Homo sapiens: one gene and its partners. The protein of the gene in region 1 purifies or fractionates together with the protein of each later gene. This does not show direct contact. Each region holds a gene or a part of one and is shown on either strand. Other genes may lie near its edges.

What was found.
Region 2: the proteins of TBC1D30 (region 1) and MYO5B purify together in Homo sapiens (affinity purification with western blotting, with the first as the bait; one study listed by BioGRID). This does not show direct contact.
Region 3: the proteins of TBC1D30 (region 1) and SYTL4 purify together in Homo sapiens (affinity purification with western blotting, with the first as the bait; one study listed by BioGRID). This does not show direct contact.

What each region holds. Positions count from the first base shown.
Region 1 is NC_000012.12:64,876,628-64,879,305, reverse strand, and holds part of TBC1D30 (TBC1 domain family member 30), read right to left. Parts: 3' UTR 1-2,678. UniProt on the Homo sapiens protein: May act as a GTPase-activating protein for Rab family protein(s).
Region 2 is NC_000018.10:49,825,169-49,828,332, forward strand, and holds part of MYO5B (unconventional myosin-Vb), read right to left. Parts: intron 1,456-3,164; coding exon 1,303-1,455; 3' UTR 1-1,302. UniProt on the Homo sapiens protein: May be involved in vesicular trafficking via its association with the CART complex. The CART complex is necessary for efficient transferrin receptor recycling but not for EGFR degradation.
Region 3 is NC_000023.11:100,729,322-100,733,458, reverse strand, and holds the start of SYTL4 (synaptotagmin-like protein 4), read left to right. Parts: upstream 1-1,337; 5' UTR 1,338-1,455; intron 1,456-1,924; exon of another isoform or gene 1,925-1,953; 5' UTR 1,954-2,041; intron 2,042-4,137. UniProt on the Homo sapiens protein: Modulates exocytosis of dense-core granules and secretion of hormones in the pancreas and the pituitary. Interacts with vesicles containing negatively charged phospholipids in a Ca(2+)-independent manner.

The DNA of each region.
Region 1 (2,678 bases):
GGCATGAACACATTAGGGAATATTAGTCACTAAAAATCATATTGTATAAGAGCATTTACCAGAAAGACAGCTTAAACTACCATGTTCAACATAACTTTTTTGTAGATAATGGCGTGTACACACATACACAAACGTACTGGAAAGATCTATATCTATATCAGAGTATTGATGATTCTTTATGCTCTTTTTGTTTTCCCAATTTTCTAAAACCTGTGACTTTTCTAATTAGGAAAAATAATATATTTTAAATGCTGCAGACAGCAAAGAAAGTGGCTCAGAAACGATGTAAAGAGAGTTTTTATATGGGGAGATGGCAGCAACTATACATCTATTCATACAGAATCCTTAATGCCATGCAGCTAAACTATATTTATTGTTCATTTTATTAAGACAAAAATAAATAGTAGATCTAAAGGTTAATTTTAGGTAAACTCTCTAGGTAAACTCTGTGCTTACTCATATTCAGGAACCAGCGAGTCTGCAAATGCTGGGCAGGTCACAGGCCACCCTGCAACCCAGCGATTAGACTGGGGGAGATAGAGCTTATTGGGCTGTTTCCCTGGTTCATGTGACCAAGGGGGGTCTGGGGTTGGGGGTGAAGGAAGAAGGAAGAAGGGAGAAGGGACTGTCACAACAGTGTTCCATGCTTGCACTCAGAAAATGGCAGAACAGTTACAACAATGAGAATCTTTATGCATATAGCTTTGTGATCAATACAATCCTTCAGAACAACAAGAGACAAACAAAGGAATACAATGTCCCAAACAGCTGCAGTCCACAGGCTGACATTGCTAACTAGATTTAGATCATCTGGAGGCTTTTGTAAGAGGAACTGAGGTGCAGAGGCATCAGAATGAGTTGATTCCCGGCAAAAGGGCTAAGAGGCTACAGACATATCTAAAAATCAAGAAACCACTACTTGTTAAGTACTTCTGGTGTTTGCATACAGTGTCCAATACATAGGGAAGATAGCAAGTCCATACTGGTCTTTGTACATGCTGTGTGGTAGAGGCTACTGCAGGTTTCTTTATTTTCTAAAGTAGGCAAGGCTCATAAATTGACCAATTCACATTGTGATTACTTGGTACAATGCATGCATGTTATTGGTACACAGAGTGCTTTAATAGGAATCTGTTGGATTTTCAAAATTCTGACAAGGCCATTTTTACCTCAGAGGACTATTATCCTTTCACTTATTCATTCATTCAACAGATACGTATCCCAAACTGTGTGTTACCTCATCCATCCCCTTCTCAGGAAGACCAACCCTGGAAATAGGTGAGAGGAGAGTGTTCACAGGGCACAGCATGTGTTGTTGATACTAAGTTTGTGGACAGCAATGGTACAATCCCAAGGACTTGTATAAGTGGCCTCTACCTCATTAACCATTTCCTTGAACCCAGACCATCAGGGAGCTAGTGAGCTGATTCAAGAGAGGAAAGAACAATTCTCCATTCAAGTCAGACATCCCTCAAGGGGAACATGACTATTCTGACTCATTTGAGAAGGGGCAAAGAAAAGGATATGAGGTGGAAACACTATTATCTGTAAAGTTTAGCTGATGGAAGAAAATGGTGTCATTTGCTTAACTTTGGAAAATGCAGTGGGTCTCTGGGCCCTGAGGGTGGTATGCAAAATAAGCCCATCTCTCCACCTACAGCCTTCCCAAAAAACAGGCTGTAGGCGTGGCTGCTTTTTAAGAAGCTGGATGCTAACTTCAGATGGCACAGAATTCAAGACCAAAACTGCAATAACTTATTAGTCATATTTTCCATCTTCAGTTCCTTTGGGGGTAAAAATACCACGAAGAAGATAAAATGGCTTTTCTCACGGTATAGGTCATTGTTGTGTTTTCTGTTCAAAAAAAGCCCACACAACCACATTCTCTATTATAAAAAGTAGTACCTCTCATAGTAAAAGCCTGCTCTACAGTTACAGTTTTCGTTTCAGAATTAACAATCCATTAGCTCAAATTAATATTGGCTGCATCAACAATATTCCTGCAAGTATCGCCAATCGTCTTCCAGAGACAAACATGAAGGCTGAGTCTATTCCTCTAATGATGGCGAGGAGAAGGGGATTGAGGAGTGAGCCTTCTGTTCAGCCAAATAACAGGTGCATGAAGCATTTTTAAAATAAACTCCCTGTTCAGGATAAGGAAGTCAGAGCTGGTTTTGTAAAATGCCATCAAGGGACTCTGTACCATCTGGAGACAGGTCCTTTGAGTCAGGAGGGATTTTAGTGAATGGCTTCCCAGTCTTGGTTTTTACACGCTATGTAGCCAATACATCTGTGTACAAAGAGCATTAAACCCACCTATTGCACTGAAGGAAATGTGGCTAAGTCACTTGGAATACCGAGAGTACTGACCTTGAGTAACTGAAGTGCTACTTCACCTCTGTGTGGCTCAGAGTTCCCATCTGCATAGTGGAGACAAGAGGTGCTATCCCTGACCCGCTGGGTGAGAGAGAGCTAGAAAGGGCAGGAGTGAGAGGGAGCTAGAAAGCACTGGGGCCTTCTCCAGAGAAAGGCAGTGTTCAATTAACAAAGTACTCAACAAAGGACTCCAATCAAAAAGCACAAAATTCAAGTAACAGAGTCACAGGTGCTGTGTTCTGGCTTCTGAGCAGAGGCCTTGTGCGTCTGCAGTCTAGAGCTGGTGGGTGAGTGAGCTGTGT
Region 2 (3,164 bases), on another chromosome or scaffold:
AAGACAGTAAAAAAAAGTGTGGAAAGAATATGGGTTTCCAATTGAATGCTTGCTTTTGAAGAAACCAAAAACAAGTTAAAAAAAATTCTAAGAGCAGCAAACATCTAAGCCTGTTATATTACTGAATTACTTTTTTAAAATCCTTATTTTGTGGGAGAGATATTTACAATTTTTTGTGTGCTAAATTTGAAAAACGTTGAAAATAACCTGAAAAGGGAAAGTTGACCTAAGCCATTTTATTCTCTTAAAAAAAAAAAACCCAAACTTTTGTATAATATCCCTGAACTGATTATTTTTGAAGGTTTTTCAGATGATCTGATGTGCGAACTTTAGTTTGTTTTACTATTTGGTTTCTGGAACAGTAGAGCATTATGTGATGCTCTTACTGGAAGCTTAATGGTATTAAGAGATTAAAAGCTTTCATATTGACTTGTTTGGTTTTTACATCTATAAATAAAACAAGTTTGTTATCCGTTTCTAATATTTAGCTTATATACATTTTTGTGAAAGTTTTGTGGGACTTGGAAAGTGTATGGACTAGCATCAGAAACAAAATATTTTTCCATCTTTCTCACTTGGAGTTTGGGATAGCAGCATTTTAATAATCTCTTCCATTAAATCAAGATAACACAAAAGCGTTTGAGCACACTGAGGACTGGCACTTCTAATTTTGCTTCAGAAACCAGTACTCAAAATGTCTGGTCTGGAGGTCAGTTACACCACTGTCTGTGTATAATCAGCCATTAAAAAATATTTTGGGAATATTTCTCAGAAGTCTCATCCCCATATTTTTGTTCTTAAAACATCTCACCACAAACTCAACCACACCTATGGTTTGCAAACTTTGGGAAATGTCAGTATATGCCATTATCATGGTTATTAGTACCATTATTTGTTAAAGCCCTTTGAAGGCAATTTATGTGACTTATATATATTTGGTATTTTAATTTGGACATTCTCTAGTTCTATGCAAAGATCAAAACTAGGCAGCTTCGTTTTATAGAATTGACACCTTTTATATGTCTATGGGGACTGCTTGGTGTCTATAAATTATGTATATGTGTTGGACTGAAATCAAACTTAAAATCTTCCATATTTCAAGTGTTTTTATTCTGAGCAGTAGGTACAAAAAATAATGACATAGTTGTGTCTAATTCTGTATAGTTCAGCACCCTCCACAGGCTGTCAATCTCTGATTTGATCTACTTTTACCAGATTTAACAGATCCTTGAATTTACTTTACTGTATATACTTCCTTCTTGCTCACATTGGGAATCAAACTAATGCTGGAAACATGCATCTTCAGACTTCATTGAGGAATTCCAGATTGAGACACGCTGGGATGTGGATTGAGTCCATGGTTAGAGAAGATGGATTAAATGGAAACAAAACAGGAAACATGTGCTTGGCATCTAATAGCAGTTGCTGAGGGTCATTCCGCTCTTGTAGTTGTGCCTATGGGGAAGAATAAGACCATGTAAAGTTTGAGTACCCCTAAAAATAGCCAGTTTAAGTGAATTCACAAAAGTGAGTTGGCATATATCATGGAAAGATTTCTACGACAATTAGGTAGAACTTCAGGACTAGGAGAATGTGATCTCCTCACCCTTGAGGTATTTAGTGGGGAGAGAAGCCCTGACTTAGGCTTCTTGGAGATCAGAGGGCTGTAAGCACTCTCCCAATTCTAGCATTCTTTAAAAAATTGTCTAAGGGAGAATATAAAATACATCTCAGGTGCAAACCATATGGAGAGGCACTATAGTGAAGTGGCCAAGGGCATGGGTTTTTTTTTTTAGGTAGACAGCTGAGCTCTAATCCTGGCACCACCCTGGGCAAATTCCTGAATTTTTTATGCCTCAGTTTCTTTACCTGTAGAATGGGAGAAGAGTACATCACATAAAATGGCAGAGTAGGAAGCCCTAGGGATTGGTCCCTCCACTGAAGCTACCTTGAAGTAGAAACAGTGATTGTCAACTATCTCATAACTCTGGAACTTGATTGGACATTTATAACAATCGGGAGACTGATTGGTAAAGGGAGAGGCTGCTGATCTTTGCTAAGGGAACTGTGTGTGTGACCCAGCTACTATCCCCCTCTCTTCAGCTCCCCTGAAGCTATGGGGATAGCAGCTCACATTCCTGGAGTAGCTAGCTGGCCAGGGTAGGCAGTGGGACCTTGTCCTCCAAAAATTTGGGGTTGTGCCCTTTGATCTGGTGGGTCCCAGCAGATGCCTGTCTTGGTTTAGACATTCCTTGGGATGCAATGGCTTCCACTAGTGGCATCAACTGGAAAATTTAAAGGCACAGAGCCCCTCCCTGCTTCCTATTTGAAGCCAGAAATTTTAGGAAAAGTACAAAAACTGAAATGAAAAATTCACTAGAGAAGTTTAACCGCAGACTTGAGCAGGCAGAAGAAAATCAGTGAATTTGAAGATAAAGCAATTGAAATGATCCAGTCTGAGAAGAAAATAAAAATAATGAGGTAAAAATGAACAGAGCCTAACAGACCTATTGGACACCATCAAGTATACCAACATACACATTACAGGAGTACCAGAAGGAAAAGAGCAAGAAGGGGGCAACAAAATATTTGAAGAAATAATGCCAGAAACTTCCCAAATCTGATGAAAGACATGTATGTAATCATCCAAAAAGTTCAATGAACTCCAAGCAGGATAAAGGCAAAGAGATTCACAGTGAAACACATTATACTAAATTGTCAAAACCCTAAGACAAAGAGGGAGTCTTGAAGGCAGTGAGAAAGAAGTGACTTGTCACATACAGTCATCCCTCAGTATCCATGGGGGATTGGTTCCAGGAATTCCCACAGATACCCAGATCCATGGATATGCAAGTACTGCTGTCGGCCCTGTAGAACCTATAGATAGAAAAAGTTGTCCCTCCATAACTACAGGTTCTGCATCCTGTGAATACTGAATTTTGAATCTGTGGTTGGCTGAATCTGCAGATATGGAACCTGTGGATATGGAGGGCTGACTGTATAAGGTATCCTCAAATAAGATTAACAGCTGTTTTTCATCAGAAACCATGGAGGCTAGGAGGCAGTGGGATGACACAGCTCAAATCCTGAAAGGAAAAAATCTTGTCTGCTAAGAATTCTAAATCTGGCAAAACTACCCTTCAAGAATGAAGGAGAAATTAAGT
Region 3 (4,137 bases), on another chromosome or scaffold:
AACACAGAACTCAATAAAGCAGTCTGGGTAGAGTTATAGAATTAGAGTTGTGACCATATATATGGTAATTAAAGCCAAGTGAGTGAAAAAGATTATTTGGGGGAGGGAGTATATGTATCCTAGCCCTGAGAATGTCTGACTTTCAGAGGTCAGATAGCAGAAGAGTGGCCTACAAAGGTCACTGAGGAGAGGGCAAAGGAGTAGGAGGAAAAGCAAAAGAGTAAAATGTCATAGATGCCATAGAAAGTTTCAAGGACGAGGAAATGGTTAACGGTGTTAAATGTAGGGGAGAAGTCAAGCAAAATAAGGACCAAAAATACCTTACTTATTTATGGATTTATTGACACTGAGGGTCATTGTTTGTGTATCTCATTGAGAAGTTTCAGTGGGGGAAGGAAGCCAGACTGCTGAGAGCTAAGAAATGAATGAGAAGTAAGGGAATAAAAATTGCAATTTCACCTGTGAAGTACATTTTCAATACATTTGCCCATAAAGAGGACCTGAAGAGGGACCTCCTGTGTAGGGAGGTTCTTTTTTTAAGATGGTAGATACTTGAGCATGTTTAATTGCTGATGTGAAATGAGGGGGAGAGGGATGGGAGAGGCAGGGAGAGGAATCTGCAATTACTGGGTAGGTATAAACATTTTCAAGTCTATTGATACATATTGCTCACGTGCTTTCTAAAAGGGTTTTTAACCAACATATGCTGCTATCAGCAATTAAGACAGCTTGTTTGGTGGCTACTTTGTCATCATTAAGTGTTATTAAAAAATAAAAAATATCTTTGCCAAAGAATCTCATTATTGTTCTAATTTGCTTTTCTTTGATTACTAGTGAGTTGGATATTTTAACCAGTTGTGTCCTTGAGTGTGTATGTATGAATTTAGTCTACGCTTTTGCCCAAAACGTTTCTATTTTAGACAGACATTTATTTGCCATAAAAGGCCACAAGTCAAAGGATCAGAATGGTATTATATTTTATTTACTCAAATTAGATAGTTCATACTCTTTTATCTTCTTAGAAGTGTGAGACAATTTGACAACTTTTGACTCAGCTGAACGAAAGAGACAGGTGATTTCACCGTCTAAGAGAGTGACCAACAGATGGAAGTAAGTGGGTGAGGAGGCACGTCTAGTGTTAGACCCCTATCCTCAGTCCCCAGGCTCCCATTCCTAACCTGGAAGGACATTCCTCTTGTGTCTCAAGGCTTTGGGTCCCAGAGCTCCCTTTTGGGCTGAGTGGCCCCCTGCTAAGGAGCCCGGGGCGCTGTGCGGCCCCTTTAAGAGTCCAGCTCCTCCCCGCTCCAGGGAAAGTTGCAGCTTTTTCCGCCTCCCGGGAGGGTGAGAAGGGCCGGCTGCCGGAGCTGGGTTGCGATCTTCCCGGAGCCGGAGACCCTCCCTTGAAACCGGCACTGGGACTTCTCGATCTCTGGAGGCACCTGTTGCAAGTGACAGGTAGGTCAACAGCCAGCGGCCGGCCCCTCGCCCTCGGTCCGGTGCTCCTTCTGGACCCCCAGCTCCTTTTCGCTGCTGAAGCGCCCCCACCCCCATCTCGGGGTCGTGCGTCTTCCCTACCCGCTCTCTGGTCCCCCAATTTTTCCTTCTCCCTAGCTGACCGCGTCTCCCCTCTCCCCGTCCGCCTCTCCCGACCGCATCCCCAGGCTTGGACTCCCGTCTGCTTGGGCGGTCCCTCCCGGCCACTTTTCTTTCTCCAGGGCTTCTTCTGGCCCCTTCCCTGACCCACCCAGCACTAATGCGGTCTGTGCCCCTCTGGGAGCCGCCTCCCCTCTCCTCTTCGGCTCCCCTCGCGGGGAGTGCCCGGGCTTTTTCCCGCCAGCCCGAGCTGGTGCCCCTCCCGAGAGCTGGCCCTGGGGGCGGGGGCGGGGCCGAGCTCCTAGCGGGAACTGCGCCCTCCAAGGCGTCCAGTCACCTTTTCGTGGGTTCCTCTCACAGCGCTCGGCCGTCGAGCGGGGTCGCTAACCCGCACTCTCTTCGGACCTACGACATCGCGGCTTCTCTGGCGTTGGCCAGTCAGCCACAGGTAAAGGCTGGAGGCTGGTTGGCTGGAGTCCTGCCTCAGTGGGCTCCCTCTGCGCTTGGGGCTGGGGACCTGGCTGTGTGCTGTGGAGCTGCTTTATATTGCCGCTCTTCAAGCAGGCTGTGAGAGATCTGGTACTGGAGGAGGGTCCCCGAGATCTCAGAAGGGGCACAGAATGCTTCTGTCTCCTGTGTTGGTTTGTAATGGGGCAGAAAAAGGTGTTCCTCCAACCCTTAACATTGAATGAGGTGGGATTTGGGGTGGTGAAATCATTTGGTTAGAATTCTGGTGGCTTGAAAAGTGGTGACTTTCTAATCAAGCTTTTCTTCCCCCAGTACCCTGCTTCTTCAGGATTAGAGGACGTAAAATTCCAGAGTACTGTGCTTGGCAGGGTTGACCCTAGACCTTGTATATTTGTGGCAAAAATGAGTCTTCTGTACATCCTGGACCTCCTATATTTAACTGGCTTATTTTCTGCTCTTTAAGCTCCCCACCCCCACCTCTCATAAATCTATTAATATTGAGGTATTAATGACTTAAGACTTTTGTCGCTGTGGGAACAATGTTTAATGCAGAGACGTGGCCTTGATGAAGTTTTCTGCGTTTTTGGTTGTTTGGTTTTTAGCACCCTAGTAGAAAAGCACCACCAACTTGGCTTGTGAGGCCCTTTTTGGGCAGAGGATGAACATTTCTGGTAACACAATTTCAGGTGTCTCACTCTTGGTCAGAGCAGTGAAATGGAGCTGGAGGCCTGTTCTGGGGTAATTGATCTGTGAGTATATGTAGCATTCTGGCTCTCTGAGCTTGTTAGGCTCTGGTTGTTAGGCTCCATTGAGCTGGACACTGTGATAAGTTCTTTACATAAAAATGCAATCCTCACAATAACTCTATACAGTAGGTGCTACAGTTATAACCATATTATGATGAAAAAGAGACTGAGAAGTTAAGTGCCTTGCCCTCAAAATCTCGGAGGCAGAGCTTGTGTTCCTATCCTGTCACACCACCTCTGTTGTCTTAGATGTTGGGAACACTGAATAGCTCATGGATGAGGACTAAGTGATTAAAAAATTGTCTTCCAAGCCCAAGTATATGTTTTTCTCCTTGCTTCCACCTTAGATGCACTGCCGAGACTATGGACTACTTACCTTACTGATGTCTTACCCACTTCATTTCCAACATGGGCCAGTTGCCACGTTACCACTATAAGTACACATCCCTGAGTGTAATTAGATGAATGAAATCTCCCGGGTTTTCAGCTCTGTGGTAATTGTCCTGAAGTTAGGGGAGGGTAACCCTGGATTCTAGGGATGTGTGCCTGACTCAACTTCTTCCTCTCCTGCTGGCTAGGGGAGAAATGAGGGAGTGGTAAGTGATATGGATTTCCTGACAGCCATACCAGAGAGCCTGAGGGTGATCGTGTGCTAGTTTTGTCATGGGATGGATGGAGTACCATAGACAAGGATAGGAAGAAAATGTCCTCCCTATTCCCATCTCTGGGACTTTGCTCAAACTGTTCCTTTTTTTCTTCCTAAAAAGCTAACTTTCCTCCCTCATTCCCCCTCCCCTGACATTAATTCCTATCCATCCCTCAAGATTGAGTTCTAAAGTCACCTCCTTTGGAACGGCCTTACTGAACACATACTTCTTCCCCCAAGCAGAATTGCCAGTTATCCTGTGTCCTAAAGCACTTTGTTTACACCTCAGTAAAGCCCTTAACACTGCTTAGTTGTTTTTCCACCTGGAAGGCTGTAAGTTCTCTAAGGGCAAGGTCTGGATCTCGGAGCTCCCTTTGTCTTAAATATAAGATGTTGGCAAATATTTGTGCCAGTAACCGGACATACCATGCCATTCCTTCAAGGGGCTGAGGTGTAGTGATGGTGGGGTTGAGGTACAGAAGACACCTTCCTGAGGCACTTGAAATACCACAGCTAGGAATTTGCCCTGACCACCCTATTTAAACGTGTAATCCCTTCCCTGAACATTCCATATGCCCTTTCCCTACCTTATTACATTGTTCTTGCTTATTGTCTGCCCTCCCACTCCCTCACCCACCATAACATAAACACCCTGTGGGCAGGGATTGCTGTCTGTTGTATTCA